2 separate regions of the Homo sapiens genome follow, and region 1 is linked to region 2. Evidence: fine-mapped expression QTL. A gene starts in region 2. The other region holds a variant in brackets. All regions are shown on one strand. Distances are from middle to middle. Region 1 overlaps XKR4 (XK related 4). Region 2 holds the start of XKR4-AS1 (XKR4 antisense RNA 1).

Evidence for each region. PIP is the estimated chance that this variant, and not a neighbour inherited with it, causes the effect.
Region 1: its variant is the best candidate, but not a certain one, in a credible set for the expression of XKR4-AS1 in testis (GTEx, PIP 0.69).

What each region holds. Positions count from the first base shown.
Region 1 is chr8:55,491,293-55,494,216 of GRCh38, reverse strand. All of the region lies in intron 2 of XKR4 (XK related 4), which reads right to left. Among named protein-coding and RNA genes, the nearest start is that of XKR4-AS1, 28 kb to the left of the region's middle. The variant G/C (reference allele first, on the strand shown) is at 1,652.
Region 2 is chr8:55,519,529-55,522,452 of GRCh38, reverse strand. It overlaps XKR4-AS1 (XKR4 antisense RNA 1), which reads left to right and starts at 1,475. Exons shown (of 2, transcript NR_134323.1): 1 at 1,475-1,518. All of the region lies in intron 2 of XKR4 (XK related 4), which reads right to left. RefSeq lists an enhancer at 1,367-1,456.

The DNA.
Region 1 (2,924 bases), 28 kb after region 2:
GTCCAGCTGTGCCCTCACAGGGAGCCAGTGCCTGTGTTGGCACCTGGAGCTGCCCACCCTGCAGCAGCAGCTAGCATGCCTGGACCCCACACTCCACTCATACACCCCTCGCTGCTCTGTGCCTGGCTTGCCCTTGGCAGGCGTGGGATCTAGGCCAGTAGCATGAGCCAAACGCAGCCTGACAGGCCAAATGGGCAGAATGAGCCCAGTGGGACAGAGCAAAACTCGGGCAAAGGCACCACTAGCCACAGAGATTTCCAGCTGGTGAAGTGACACCCCAAAAATCCTATAACAAATGGATGGATACGAAGATTACTAACTTACATTGTGTTTGGGGACCACAAGCAATTAATACCACAGTGAGCAGGAAATCAATACAATCATTGTTTTATCCATTCCTGAAATGGAAAAAGGAGAACTGTGTGGATGGGTAGCACTATTGGGTAAAGGGCACAGTCATCTTTACAGTCTGTTCCTGTATGGTTAGCCCAGATATAGGTTGACTTTTCATGCCACTGCTTATTAAATAAAAATAACAGAAACCACAGTTATTTTTTGAGAGTTTCCTATGTGTCAGGCTTTTCAAAAATAGAGTCATTAAAGCCATAGCTTTAATGTAGCTATAGCTACAGACCCATACTTGCTCTTTTATACTCTTCCCTAAGCCACTGTGGCTGGAAACCTGCAAACTGCATTTGCCAGATTTTGTGCTCAGTTGGGATTCCTTGTTGGCAATGGGAGGCACTCATAACAAATTAAATGTGGGAAGAAGATAGAAACTACCCTGCTTATGGCAGAGGCAGGTGACTACAGACTATTGCAATAGTGCCAGCAGTTCTAGTACCTCTGGAGGTGAGCATAGATGCCTGCAGAGGAAATAGCTAGCAAAACCCAGGCTTTCTGGAGCTCACATGCTGTATCAGGGAAGAGAAATGAGGAATTAGATGGGCATTACTCCTGGTAGGATGCTATGATTTTCTGATGTTTCTCATCTTTGGAAACCACCAACTTTCCCAATTTTTGCTCCTTTAGCTCCCACATTTTGTCTCTTAATTCCTTAATTTAAATCACTTTCTAGCTTGAGATACCTAGAGAAGTTTGTATTTTTCTGAATGAACCAATACTATATCCACTTGGCCCACACTATCCTCTAGAGTCCACTGTGGATAGACAGAAACTTTCCCCCAGACCCAAAGAGTCATTGTTGGCATAGTTACAATTGCCCTGCTACTGAGGATCACATCTGCCCTGTCTGAGCCACAGCTTTGTAAGGCTGTGCTGGCACAGTGCTCACAGATTCACAAGGCCCCTGGTGCTGAGAGAGTGACCTCAGATGTTATGGCTGCAAGTTTGATAATGCCAGGAGAGAGATCTAAAATTCAACTGAATAGCAATACATCATCTGTAAATCACGAGACTGAAAAAAATGCAGGATTCCATGGAATTTAAAGGCCTTTTAAGACAGAAAGAAAGACATGTCTATATCTTAGGAACCAAACAAATGAAGAATCTGATCAAACGATCAACTGGAGTTGGAGTTGAGCACTGCTGTGAGTAGACAGAAGAATTAATGTGTTTATCTTGCATTCAGGAATGTGGGCCAAGTGGCACTTCTTCTAAGCGATGGCATCATGGACATGGCAATCACAAA[G/C]AGTACTCAGTGAGTCCCCTCAGGACTGCCTAGAACACAATCAGTACAATCAGTGTTGTGGTTCAGTTAATGGGGATGGTGACTGTTTTCCTTAATGGGTGAGAATCTTTTAAACCCAGTAAAATTCAGAATTAAATATAGAAATGTTTAAGAGAAATAAAATCATGGCTTAGTATTTTGGGGTTAAGAAGAAACATATACATATTTAGTGTTTAATATACTTGTAATTTTTGAGACAATCTGGCCCATTATAAAGACATTCTTGAAACTCCTACTAAATATATAAAGCATGGACAAATTATCCGGTTCTGAATTTTTTTCCTTTCCATAAACAACTAGACAACTGGAAAAAATATAACAGACAACAATTTCAGATACTGAACAACAGAACAGGCCTGTATCTTAAATAGAAAGAAAATAAATTAGGTGAGACCAGCAATTGCCCTGGCTCTTTGCCTGGAGACACCTTCTAAACTGTGGCACAGGGAAGGGGAATTCAAGTAGAGCATTACTCTGAAAAAGGCAGATGTCAGTGTTCAGGAGAGCTGAGATGGCTGAACTTTGTGGGGAAGAATACCGGAGAGCAGGGAGTGGTGCAAAGAGAAAGTTCCAGAAACCTGCATCGGCATCCTCTTGAGTTTTTTGTTGAATGCTCTGCCATGTATGCATAAACTAGGCAAAAATAGACTCCTGGGGAGTTGTAAACGGAACAATTCTCAGAGCTTACATACGGTTGTGATACTGTACGTTTTGACCATCCAAAATAAAAGAAGCCAGGGCTGTGGTGTGTGCCCGTAATCCTAGCTACTCAAGAGGCTGAGGTGGGAGGATCACTTGAACCTAGGAGTCTCAGGCCAGCCTGGGCAACACAGCGAGACTCTGTTCCCCCTCCTCTCCCCAGCAATAAAAAACAAACAAACAAACAAACAAACAAACAAACCCCCAAAGACATAAAAGAGCCCATTGAACACCTGGAGCATTCAGAAAAGACCCCAGAAGGCTATGTCTTAAAAAGTAGAGCTAAACTAGCCTTAGAATAAAAGATACTCCAGATGTGCCCTACCAGTGTTTTAAGAGGCCCCCAAAACATCAAGCTCATCCACAGGTAAGTTAATTGCCTGCCAGGACAAAATTCAACACTCTTTCAAAGAAGACAACAAAATTCAAATTCCAAATATGCCACATCCAATAAAAAATCATGGACAATGTAAAGCTACAGAAAAATGTGACCAATAACCCAGAGAAAAATCAGCCGATAGAAACATAACCTGAA
Region 2 (2,924 bases):
CTTGTGATACCTGGTGCACAGTTTGTCCTAGTGCAATCTGGCACTCTTCCTACAGCCTTTATCTGTTCCTTATTGCCTTTCCCACAAAAGAAGACATGTCCGTTCCCTGTCTTCCATCTCTTAGCTCTTCATAGATTAAAGATTGTGCTGAAATTATTTTTCAATCACTCCTCTTATTTTATCATTTTATTGGTCCCATTTGGTTGGTATTCCCTCTAAAAGTAGGCTTCCAAATGTTAAAAGTCATTTGTATTGTTTTCCTCTACTCTTGTTCCACCTCCTGTATGGCACAGTTCATCTCTATCGTCCAGATGTGGCCAGGGCTCACCTAAAAACACACTGGCCTCCTTTAGGAGAGAGCTCTTATGGGAAATTCCTCTGTCACAGAAATGGTATGCCAATCTGCATCGCAGCTGGCTTCCCTAATGAGCTGAACCAAGACTCACCAAGACTAAGAATGGTCTCATCTATTTTAAAGTCTGGCTGGCTTTTTCTTCACCAAATCTATTATTAATCATAACCAGGCCCCATTAAAGCCTTTCTCTTCTTTTGGATATAATAGAAGATATGTTGATTGCCAAGATCTTATAATGGAAATGGTACTTTTTATTCAAAAATATTTTTATAGGGAAGAGCTGTTGTCTATGATCCTTGAAAAATGAAAAGAAAGTACTCTTGTGGAAAAAGACCACACTAATTGACAGGAAATACATTCAACCCCAATAATTATTTCTGATACATCCTCGTTGAGTAAGGTGAACTCCAAAGAACAATTATTGATAAGGAAAATATTTTCTAAGAGCCATTTCTCATATTTCCTCCCAATAAAGCCAGCAGAACAACTAGACATGCTACACTGGGACCTTCAGGTTTTTCTTTTCTTTTCTTTTTCTGGCTAGCACAAAAATCTTTAATTGCTGTAAGTCACAGGCAGCTGTGGTGCTATTTATAGGTCAGAGACCAGTATACAAAGGAGTTTCTGATAATTTAATTTCTAAGCAACAGAAAACATCGACATCAATTATAAAACAAATTCTGGAGTGAAAGAGGGGGAAGGAGAAAAAGTTTAAAAAATGACAAAAGAAGGTGAGAGAAATGCGAAATAAAAGGTAATGGGATAATGACTATGCGAACATCTTTATTATCACTTGGGGATTTAAGAACAAAAGATTGTGCCTTTTTTAATTTCGACGCTTTTGTAGGGCATAGAAGCCGCTCATATCTCTCTTCTTATGTGTACCACTTGCAAACGTGTAGCTTCTCACTAGACTATGCTCCCTTTGTGCTTTTAAACGCGGCGCCCAGCTGGGTTTCTGCCCGGGAACGCCCCTCCCCTTCCTTCACGCCGGCCTCCTTCAGCACAGCTGGGGCACAGCGCCGCCTTCAGGAAGATAACTGCACCGCCGGTCAGGCTCGCGCCAACCAAAGCGGGGTTGTTAACGGGGTGGTCAGAATGGTTCTACCAGTTTGCACAGGAAGACGTTACTTAAGGCTGCTTTCCAAAGCAGTGAAAAAATAGTAAGAAAACTTTAAGTACACAGTATCATGAAATGATGATATGATCTGTTGTCAGATTTAAAAGAATAGAAACATTAGCCTCCTTCAAATTACCCTGTAATCTCTACCCCTTTTATTGCGTGTCCTAAAAGAGTAATTCAGCCTGCGTTTGACACTCCAGGAACTTGTTAAGATGATACTGTAGCCGTAGAAAAATGAAGGCTTTCTATCAGCTTTGCTCTCTCTATATCTTACAATTTAAAAAATCTATACCAAAGGGAAATTTCATGTCCCTGTGATACCCTCTTTATGAATTCTCTGCTTTAGCAATGAGAATTTCTCTTCTTCCTTTGTTGATGATGATGATGATGATTTTTTGAGACAGAGTCTCACTCTGGCTGGAGTGCAGTGGCACGATCTCAGCTTACTGTAGCCGTCACCTCCTGGGTTCAACCCATCCTCATGCCCCAGCCTCCTGAGTAGCTGGGACCATAGGCATGTGCCACCACGCCTGGCTAAGTTTTGTATTTTTAGTAGAGAGGGGGTTTCACCATGTTGGTCAGGCTGGTCTCGAACTCCTTGCTTCAAGTGATCCTCCTGCCTTGGCCTCCCAAAGTGCTAGGATTTTAGGCGTGAGCCACCGTGCTGGGGCTTCCTTTGATTATTATTTACTTTTTCTTCTGTTTAACAATTGATTTTTATAAGACAAATATATGCTGAACAGAAAATATGGGGTCATATACAAGTTAAGACCCTTACAACTTCACAAATTCACAACTGCCACAGAACACTTAGTTCTTTTGCTCTTTATACAAATAATACGAGCTCAGTTTTTTCCAATGCCAAGACAGACTTCCTCAGCAAGGCATGGCCTTATTCTTAGAGTTCTCTGGAGCTTCTGATATGCAGTGGCACAGTGCTGGAACACAGGACTCTGAGCACTCCTTTAGCTATTAATGTGTATTTTAAGTTGTTATTTGAAAATAATTTCAAACTTACAGAAAAATTATAAGACTAGAAATATTATATTGAACATCTATATTTCATTTGCCCTAATTGTCAACTGACTTTATCATTGCCCTCTCTCTGTCTCTGTCTCTCTCTCTCACCCATTTGCGATTAAATGCATACATTATGGTCCTTTATCCTAAAATATGCCAGTGTTTATTTCCTATGAATAGGGGCATTCTCTTACATAACCACATAAAGTTATCAACTTCAATCAATTTAACATTGACACAGTACTTTAAAAAAATCCACTATCAGTATTCTAGTTTCACCAATTGACATTAACAATGTCCATTCCAAAATTTTTCTCCCCTATACAGGATCAAGTCTAGAATCAGGTACTACATTTGGCTGTTGTATTAATTCAGTTTTCTTTAATCTGGATTATTTCCAAATACTTTCTTTGACTTTATGACACT